Linked DNA regions of Homo sapiens: region 2 is linked to region 1. Evidence: fine-mapped expression QTL. A gene starts in region 1. The other region holds a variant in brackets. All regions are shown on one strand. Distances are from middle to middle. Region 1 holds the start of RAB40C (RAB40C, member RAS oncogene family). Region 2 holds the start of LOC124903618 (a long non-coding RNA gene).

Region 1 (5,195 bases):
CACGTCTTAACCTTGAGACCTTAGACACAGAAAGCGCGTTCCACAGCCCAGAGGCGCTTCCTTCTCTGCTCGAGGCCACAGGACTCCTGCGGGGACCTGGAAGTGTGCCCCGGGCCCTGAGAGCACGTGGTGTCTTTCTAAGAGTGGACTCTCCTCTCTGCCTCTGGTCCAAGCCACTGTGAGCCTCTGAAGTCTCTGCAAGCAGGCAGGTCTCCACGTCTTACACAATACTGGCCCCACTTCAGTGAGCATGTCAGAGGAAGTGTGGCAATGCCCCACAGCCCGACGAAGGGGACAGGGAGGAAGGAGGGTCCTGTCTCTCCAGCTCCTGGCTGTGTGGTGCAGTTGGGTAGGCGAGCTGGCCAGCATGGCTGAGCCGGCCCTCAGAAGCACGCCTTCATGTCCTGGGAAAACACCGATTGATGAAACCCAATCCTTCCCGTGCTCTTCTGAACATGCACAAACACGCACGCCGCCAGCCTCCTGGGAGTGCGCAGCGCCCCTGGAGCCAAGCTTTAGAAGGCAACGCCACCTTCACAATCAACTTGGCCGCCCACCACCTGAGTCAGGAGTTACCAATTCTGGGGCAGTCACTGTCAAGTGCAGGACCAGGAGGCGGCAGGTGCAGGGGCCTAACGTGTGAGCCCCCAATGCCCCAGTGGGCCTTACACTTCCCCCACCTCAAAATGGACACAGAGCTCTTCCTCCCTGGCCCTTTCCAACCCCTCCTCCAGGCTGAAGCCAGGAGCACAAGCTTCCAGAGCCCCCGGTGCTGCTGCCCACTGCTGAAGCCATGCCAGGAGGAAGCGCGCTCAGCCTCAGTCCAGGTAATCCCACGCTCTGCCAACCCCCGAGTTGAGAGAGTGGGGGATGCTGCGCCCACACTCTCAGCAGCCAAAGGCAGACAATTCAGCAAATAGCAGACGCTCAGGGCAGTCAGACAGGACGGACAAGAGCCCAAGAAACAAAGCAAGGGGAGAGGGCAGGGACCAGGAGAGGTAAGTTCGCCAGCGTAGATGGCATTCCCTGAAGCGCAGATGGACTCTGGGGAGGCTGGATGCTGACTGCTCCCAGTTCATCTGGGGCCACATCCCATTCGGCTGGGTCCAGGCCCCCATGAGAGGGGATGAGGACCACACCGTCTCACTCACTCTGTTAACCACCTAAATTAAGAGGCATGCTCAGGCAGGCAAGCCCCAGTGATGCCACCTATCTAGTGTATTTTAGCCATGCCACTGGAAGTTAAAAACAAACGTTCAGGCCAGGCGCAGTGGCTCACGTCTGTAATCCCAGCACTTTGGGAGGCCGAGGTGGGCAGATCATGAGGTCAGGAGATTGAGACCATCCTGGCCGACATGCTGAAACCCCGTCTCTACTAAAATACACACAACAAAATTAGCCGGGCGTGGTGGCATACACCTGTAGTCCCAGCTACTCGGGAGGCTGAGACAGGGGAATCGCTTGAACCCAGGAGGCGGAGGTTGCAGTGAGCTGAAATTGTGCCACTGCACTCCAGCCTGGCGACAGAGTGAGACTCCGTCTCAAAAAAAAAAAAAAGAAAGAAAAGAAAAGAAAACAAAACAAAACAAATGTTCAGTAACTCATTACAGAGGTATTTTCTTCTAGCACAAAGCGTTGACTCCCTCAGCAGTAAGCAAATACCTCAGGGGAACAGCGTGCCTATAAGGACCTGTCATCTGTGCACGCTCGAGACAGGGTCCCAAGAGCAGCCCAGCAGCACCTGCCACCAGACCTGGGTCCGTGACACCTTCCCCGGGCCCATGACACCTTTCCCCAGATCTATAACACCTTCCCTCGGACCCCAGATGATCCCAGACCCATGACACCTTCCCTTAGGACCATGATGCCTTCCCCCAGATCTATGACACCTTCCCTCAGACCCCAGATGATCCTAGACCCATGACACCTTCCCCTGAGATCCCAGACCATGACACCTTCCCTTAGGCCCATGACACCTTCCCCTGAGATCCCAGACCCATGACACCTTTCCCCAGATCTATGACACCTTCCCTCGGACCCCAGATGATCCCAGACCCATGACAGCTTCCCTTAGGACCATGATGCCTTCCCCCAGATCTATGACACCTTTCCTCGGACCCCAGATGATCCTAGACCCATGACACCTTCCTTTTGGCCCATGACGCCTTCTACCGGGACCATGACATCTTTCCCCGGACCCCAGATCCTGGACCCATGACACCTTCCCTCGGACCTATGACACCTTCTCCCAGACCCCAGATCCTGCACCCATGACACCTTCCCTCCGGCCCACGACACCTTCCCCCGAGCCCATGACACCTTCCCTCGGACCCCAGATGATCCTAGACCCATGACACCTTCCCCAGGCCCATGACACCTTCTCTAGGACCCATGACACCTTCCCCTGGGCTCCAGATCCCGGACCCATGACACCTTCCCCTGAGATCCCGGACCCGTGACACCGTCCCCCAGACCCCGGGTCCATGGCACCGTCCCCGCTGGGCGCGTCCCTCTGGTCCGTCCTCCTGCCCCCCGGCGTCACCTCGGGACTGGAGCACGGGCACCCCGCAGCCACCGAGCTACCGAGTCTGGAAGCCAGGCAAAGGCGTTCCTGGGAACGTTCGGCGGCGCTTGGAAGGGCCGGGCCGAGGGCGAGCTCCGTGCCCAGCTCGCCGGGCTCGGGCCCCGCGTAGCAGCGCGCGCCGCGGGCCGGGCCTTACCGTTACTGTAGGCGTACGGGGACTCTGCCGCGCCGTCCTGCAGGCTCTCCAGGATCTCGCCCTTGCCCACGTCGCTGTCGCCCACCAGCAGGAACTTGAGCAGGTAGTCGTAGCTCTTCACCGGACTGCCCTGCGAGCCCATGGCCGCGCCGCCTGCGCCCCGCGCCGGCCGCCTGCCGAAGCACCGCCGGGTGAGGCCGCGGCGTGAGAGAGCCCGCGCCCCGCACCTGCGCCCGTTGCGTCCGCCCCACGGCGGCCGAGTGGGCGCGCCCGAAGCCCAGCGCCGGCCCCGCCCCGCCCGCGCCCGGGCGCACCTCAGCCTCGCCGCCGCCCCGCCGCTTCCCGCACCACCAGGGCCGCCGCGCCGCCCCACCCCCGGCCGCGCCGCCGCCATTGGCCACCCTTCGCCCGCCCTCCCGAGCCCATTGGCCCACCCGCCCGTCCGTCACGACTTCCCCGCCCTCACGGCGTTCCACACGGCGCCGCCAGACCTCCGGTCGCACCGCCTCTTCACCACCCCGCCCTGCCTTCCCGTAGTCACCAGAGGTCGCCCGCCGCCCTCCTTCCCTCAGCCATTGGCCTGTCTGCACGTCTGTCATGACCGCCCCTCCCCCGCCTTTCCCACACGGCGTTGCGGAGACAGCGGACGCCTGCCTCATCGCCGTCGCCATTGGCCACTCGCCTCCTGCTTTCCCGGAACCATTGGTTCGATTATAAGTTCACCAAGATCATTCCCTTCCCTGCGGCTGCCTCCCAGAGAAATCCCAGAGCCGCCGGCCGCCCCGCCCCCGGCCCACAACGCCGTTGTCCTCGCCCGCCCCGTCGCCGGCGCCATTGGGTCGCTTGCATGTCCATCACGGCTCTGCTAACCCCGCCCCTTTCCTACACGCTCGCCAATCAGGGGCTCGGAAGTCCACGTTGTTTGTATCCGCCCCTTCAACGCGCGGACGGGCGGCAGGATGCAGGCGCGCCCGAGCCGAGGCGATGCGGCTGAGTCCGGGAAACGAAAGCCCCTCGCAGGCTGTGCCGCCTGCTTCCGCAGAACCCTCGGAGGGAGCGGCGGGGTGGCCCCGGGCGCGTCCTCTCTAAGGCGGTGCGGCCAATCGGCGCTCGATGAGGCGGAACTTCCTCTCCGGGGCAGGGGCGGGACTTCCGCCCGGCGGCGGCGGGGCGCACCGTTGGGTCACCAGTGAGTCTGCAAAGTCGCTGAGGTTCTGGGACAGCGCGGCGTCACCGAGCGTGAGCCTTCCGCCCGGGGACGCGGCCGCCACAGCTCGGGACGCGGGGAGCGCGGCCGGCGCGAGCTCAAGACCCGGCCCGACGTGCTCACTGCGGCAGCGGCGCCTCCTGGACGGGGACCCAGGGCCCGGACCGCGCTCTTCCCGGGGGCGCCGCCGAGCCCTCGTCCCTGCCGGGCCCGGCTGCCGCAGGTGCGTGGGCGAGCGAGGCGGCTGCGTCCGCGGGCCCCGGCGTGGGGTCGGGGGTTGAGTGGGCACGTGGTTCTTTCTGGGGTGACGAGAAGGTCCTACCGTCGTGGGGATGGTCCTGCCTCTCTCGGTGAAGTTACTCACTCGGAACGGGTGAGCTTTGTGATACGTGCTCTGCGTTCAGTAGCGCTGTTACAGTCGTAAGTAAAAGCAGTAACGTCAGCGCCGACCCAGCGCAGCCCTCTCCAGACCGGGTGCGGAGCCCGTCACGTCTGCCCCGCCGGCGAGGAGCAGAGCCCGGCAAGAACCCTCCTCCAGAGGGGCCCCGACCAGGGCTGTGCCTCCGGGAGCAGGTGCTGCTTACACAGAGGGACGCCAGGACGGGCAGCCCCACACCTCCAGTGACCTCCCGTCCCCCAGAGCTGAAGACATGGCCTGACTAAGCGGCGACCACATCGACGCACCAGTTTTTTCTTTTTTGAAACAGGGTCTCCCTTTGTCGCCCAGGCTGCAGTGCAGTAGCGCGATCTCGGCTCACTGCAGCCTCTACCTCCCCGGCACAAGCGATCCTCCAGCCTCAGCCTCCCGAGTAGCTGGGACTACAGGCGCCACCATGCCCGGCTACCTTTTGTATTTTTTGTAGAGATGGCGCCTTGCCAAGTTCCCCAGGCATTAACCCGGAAACAACCTGGCGGGTCAGGGAGAGCCTCTTCTGCTCAGAGGTCATTGTGCCCAGACTTGAGCCCTGGCTGTGAAGTCCCTGAGGCCCCTCACTCCAGGGACGGGAAGCACCAAAGATGTGATGTTTCCTCCTCGGTTTCTGAGACTGCCTGGAAGCGGGGGGTGGATAGTGGTGAGCAGCCGTCTCCTCCTTTCCTGAGAACATAAATCAGAAACGCTTTCTGAGGCCGGGCACGGTGGGTCATGCCTGTAATCCCAGCACTTTGGGAGGCTGAGGTGGGTGGATCACCTGAGGTCAGGACCAGCTTGGCCAACATCGTGATAACCCCCTCTCCACTGAAAATACAAAAATGAGCCAGGCATGTTG
Region 2 (5,195 bases), 27 kb before region 1:
ATGTTGGTCAGGTTGGTCTCCAACTCTTGACCTCGTGATCTGTCTGCCTTGGCCTCCCAAAGTGCTGGGATTACAGGCGTGAACCACCGCACCAGCCCCAACTCCTCTTTCAATAGCAGGCAGGGCCCATGGAATGCATCCTTGAGCCTGCCCGTCTTCCACCTGCCTGCTCCACGAATCACGGCCATGTTGCTCCAGTTCTCACAGGGATGGCACGGAGCCTGCAGGCCCTTCTGCTCCCATGAGGGAGCTGCCAACATCTCCGAGGGAACTCCCAGGACAGGGTGCGACCCAGCCCGCCCTGGCGTCCTTCCCACCCACCGCCAGCAGGTAGAAGACATCAGATCCAACACCGACTACACTTCAGTGTAGAAATGGAAGGAAATGAGCTTGCCATGGGACGAAGCTCCAGTGTCCATCCCCCTCGCACCTGGGCAGCTTCCTGCCCAGAGCGGACCCACCTGAGCCAGAAGCTGCATGGCACAGACCTGAACCTTCCCCCAAGAAGGATCCAGACCCAGACCCAGGCGGCCTCCCTGGGCCCACATGGGGGGCTCCAGGCTCACGAACTGGCCCCGGAGGGGCTCTCCTGGCTCTTCCAGAACTCTTAGGGGCATCACAGACAGGACAGACCCGCTCAAATCCCTCCCACTGAAGCAGCAACAACAGTGGCCATGACAGGTCTGTTTACATGGGCTTCACGTCCTTGCCCTCCTTCCGGCCTCACATTCGCCAGCAGATCCAGTCAGCACAAAAGCGTGCTTGGGGGCCCAGAGGAGACAGAAACGAGGGTGGCCAAGCGCACCCACCATACCTGCACACACACTGCACACATGGCCCCAGTGCCCCCGCCAGACCTGTGCACATGGCTGCACACACACATGGCCCTGAGTGCACCCACTACACCTGTGCACACACACAGCTCCAAGTACACCACACCTGCACACACACTGCACACATGGCCCCAGTGCCCCCGCCAGACCTGTGCACATGCCTGCACACACACATGGCCCTGAGTGCACCCACTACACCTGTGCACACACACAGCTCCAAGTACACCACACCTGAGCACACACTGCACACATGGCCCCAGTGCCCCCGCCAGACCTGTGCACATGCCTGCACACACACATGGCCGAGTGCACCCACTACACCTGTGCACACACACAGCTCCAAGTACACCACACCTGCACACACTGCACACATGGCCCCAGTGCGTCCGCCAGACCTGTGCAAATGCCTGCACACACATGGCCCTGAGTGCACCCACTACACCTGTGCACACACACAGCTCCAAGTACACACCTGAGCACACACTGCACACATGGCCCCAGTGCCCCCGCCAGACCTGTGCACATGCCTGCACATACACATGGCCGAGTGCACCCACTACACCTGTGCACACACACAGCTCCAAGTACACCACACCTGCACACACTGCACACATGGCCCCAGTGCGTCCGCCAGACCTGTGCACATGCCTGCACACACATGGCCCTGAGTGCACCCACTACACCTGTGCACACACACAGCTCCAAGTACACCACACCTGCGCACACACTGCACACATGGCCCCAGTGCCCCCGCCAGACCTGTGCACATGGCTGCACACACACATGGCCCTGAGTGCACCCACTACACCTGTGCACACACACAGCTCCAAGTACACCCACTGCGCCTGTACTCCCAGCTACTGGGGAGGCTGAGGCAGGAGAATCGCTTGAACCCGGGAGGGGGAGGCTGCAGTGAGCCGAGACTGTGCCACTGTACTCCAGCCTGGGTGACAGAGTGAGTCTCTGTCTCAAAACAAACAAATAAACAAACCAATGTGAGAATATCCTTATAAAGAAAGAAAGTCCTTGGGAGTTTGACAGGACAACAACTCACATTCAGAAAGAATCAGGAGAAACATCCTTTGAAAAGCAATGGAAAGAGCGGTGCTGGTCTTACCTGAGCGCCCCTGGAGTAGGACCTGAAGATGGTGCAGAACCGGCCCTGGCCCGACGTGTCCCTGAAACATACGGGGAGGGGAGGGGCCGGGACTGTGGTCCCTGTGAGAGGCTCACCTCCTTCCCTCCTCTGCCGACCCACCTGGATGTCCTGAGGGGAGCGGGGCGGCCAGGACAGGTGCCAATGAGGCTGTGCTAAGCGGCTTTGTCTGCACAGGTCACAGCAGCCTGGCGCCGTGCCGCTGAGCCAGGCAGGCAGCAGAAGGGGCCCCCGCCCACCTGGGGAGTGAGCAAGCTCCTCACATGAGCCTGGGAGCTCCAGGAGACTGTCCTGCCAGGCTGGGGAACCCCAACCCTGTGGACATTCACGTCTCATCAACGCTGACGTTCTGGGAAATGCTTTTTTTTTTTTCTTTTTTGAGACGGAGTCTCATTCTGTCACCCAGGCTGGAGTGCAGTGGTGCAATCTC[A/T]GCTCACTGCAACTTCTGCCTCCCGGGTTCAAGTGATTCTACTGCCTCAGCCTCCTGAGTGGCTGGGACTACAGGCGCCCGCCACCACACCTGGCTAATTTTTGTATTTTTAGTAGAGATGGCGTTTCACCATGTTGGCCAGGCTTGTCTTGGACTCCTGACCTCAGGTGATCCTCCTGCCTCGGCCTCCCAAAGTGCTGGGATGACAGGCGTGAGCCACCACACCCCGCTGGGAAATGCTTTTTAAGGTGAAGCCGACAGAAGGGGAGGGAAGGGGCTCACAGCCACCACGGAATCAGGTTTTCCGGGGCAGGAGGGGAGCCGCGATCTCTAGGGACACAGTGTCCCAGACTGTCTTTTTCCTGTTGGAGTAAAATCCATTCTATGTTTAAACAGGGGCTGTGTAAGTGGCTCTTCCAAGTGAAATGCAAACAGGACGCCTTCCTGTTTCTCTAAGGGTTCTGTTCTCCCTTCGGCATTTGTGTCCTCACCCAGGAACTGAAGTGCCGCAGCCCCAACTCACCAGAGCTCCAGCTTCACGCGCCGGCCGTCCAGCAGGATGGTGGTGGTCTTGTAGTCGATCCCTGCGAGGAAGCACAGGGCGCTGAGGGGACGCGCCACTCCTGGAGCGAGCGCCCGCGAGACCAGCCTCGGCCACTGGCCTCCCAGGGCCAAGACCCACGCGGAAGTGGAGAAGCAGCTCCCCCACACTCAGCCAGTGGGGCAGGGGGAAATCTCGGGGCTCTGGCCCAGCAACCCAGGCCTGCCCACTTCTGCACACGGGCCACGGGCAGGGCGGGGCAGGGCAGGGCAGGAGCGTGGTCCATACAGTGTCAGGCCATCGGGCCCCACAGCCTAGCAGGCCAGCCTCTCCATGGGCACGGCTTGCCTGGAATGGGGCCTCCGCCTGTGGCCCGCGCTGGGTGCAAGGCACAGGGCCTCTCCCTCAGAGGGCATTGGGCAAAGGCAGGGCGTGGACTCCAGCGTGCCTGGAGAAAGGGCAGTGCCTTTATTTCCACCCTGACCTACTTCGTATGCATTTTGAAGTTGAATTCTCCAAGGCGAATGTATTTCCAAGTCTCGGCTTACTGCAGCCCAGGAACTGCCAAGGTTGGTGTTAGGGAGGGCCAAACAAGTTTAAAAATGCTGCTTCTGGCCGGGCGCGGTGGCTCACGCCTGTAATCCCAGCACTTTGGGAGGCCGAGGCGGGCGGATCATGAGGTCGGGAGTTTGAGAGCAGCCTGACCAACACAGTGAAACCCCGTCTCTACTAAAAATACAAAAAATTAGCCAGGTGTGGTGGTGGGCACCTTTAATCCCAGCTACTCGGGAGGCTGAGGCAGGAGAATCACTTGAAGCTGGGAGGTGGAGGTTGCAGTGAGCCGAGATCATGTCACTGCACTCCTGCCTGGGTGACAGTACTCAATAAATAAATAAATAAATAAATAAATAAATAAAATGCTGCTTCTCCGGACTCTGGACTGACCTCAGACAGCCACCAGCCTGCCTGCCACATTGGTATTTTTTTTTTTTTTTGAGACAGAGTCTTGCTCAGTCACCCAGGCTGGAGTGCAGTGGTGCGATCTCTGCTCACTGCAAGCTCCGTCTCCCGGGTTCACGCCATTATCTAGCCTCAGCCTGCTGAGTAGCTGAACTACAGGCGCCCGCCACCATGCCCGGATAATTTTTTGTATTTTTAGTAGAGGTGGGGTTTCACCGTGTTAGCCAGGATGGTCTCGATCTCCTGACCTCATGATCCACCCGCCTCAGCCTCCCAAAGTGCTAGGATTACAGGCGTGAGCCACTGCACCCGGCCTTTTTTTCTTTTTTGAGATGGAGTCTCACTCTGTCGCCCAGGCTGCAGTGCAGTGCCACAATCTCGGGTCACTACAACCTCCACCTCCCGGGTTCAAGCGATTCTCCTGCCTCAGCCTCCCAAGTAGCTGGGATTACAGGTGCCCACCACCACAGCCGGCTAATTTTTATAATTTTAGTAGAGACGGGGTTTTGCCACGTTGGCTAAGCTGGTCACAAATTCCTGACCTCAGGTGATTCGCCCGCCTTGGCCTCCCAAAGTGCTGGGATTACAGGTGTGAGCCACCGTGCCCGGCCCACATCACATCATTACTTTTTATTTCCTTACAGTTTTATAGGAAAAGGTCAGTCCAAGAGAAACTGAAAGGAGCAGACAGTTCTGGACACTTAACGCAGGCACGACATCTTAAACAGGCTCTGGGCCCTCTGGAAACTTTCCAGAAGCTTCTACCTTTAGGGCTCAGCCCCTTCCCCCACCTTAGAAACACCATTCACGTTTTGTCTTTTTATGACACTTTCTCCAAGGGGCTTGGAAACGGGCACTTTTTAAACATAAGCGACGCCCTCCCACGGAGTGCACCTGCCCAGTGGGCTTGTGTGTGTGTCTGTGCACATCTGTCTCTCCGTGCGGGCCCAGCCCTGCAAGCCAGCCATGCGGTCTCTCTGCCTACGGTGCCCTTCTTCAGGCATCAGCGCTTCCACCCACACCGTCCTTCTGCCTGACCAACCCCTACATGTACATCAAAGGCTGTTCTCATGCATCGAAGGACACCATCAATGGACAGAAAAATGCAACCCAGAGATGGAGGGAAATGTCTGCAGATCACACGTCTCCTAGAGACTGATCTCTAGACTCTACAAATAACTCCAACTCAACAACAGAAAACCAAACGTCCCAATTTTAGGATGGACGGATGGTCTCCCTCGGGTCCTCGTTTCCAAGACAAGAAGGAACAATGGT

What was found. PIP is the estimated chance that this variant, and not a neighbour inherited with it, causes the effect.
Region 2: its variant is the best candidate, but not a certain one, in a credible set for the expression of RAB40C in esophagus muscle (GTEx, PIP 0.78).

The regions. Positions count from the first base shown.
Region 1 is chr16:587,959-593,153 of GRCh38, reverse strand. It overlaps RAB40C (RAB40C, member RAS oncogene family), which reads right to left and starts at 3,088. Exons shown (of 6, transcript NM_021168.5): 1 at 2,721-3,088. The coding sequence starts at 2,862. RefSeq lists silencers at 2,878-3,197, 3,288-3,407, 3,478-3,527, 3,538-3,597, 3,918-4,227 and enhancers at 3,572-4,445, 4,568-4,767.
Region 2 is chr16:615,016-620,210 of GRCh38, reverse strand. RAB40C (RAB40C, member RAS oncogene family) reads right to left here. Exons shown (of 6, transcript NM_021168.5): 2 at 2,943-3,003; 3 at 1,951-2,011. LOC124903618 (a long non-coding RNA gene) reads left to right here and starts at 3,947. Exons shown (of 2, transcript XR_007064934.1): 1 at 3,947-5,195. The variant A/T (reference allele first, on the strand shown) is at 2,420.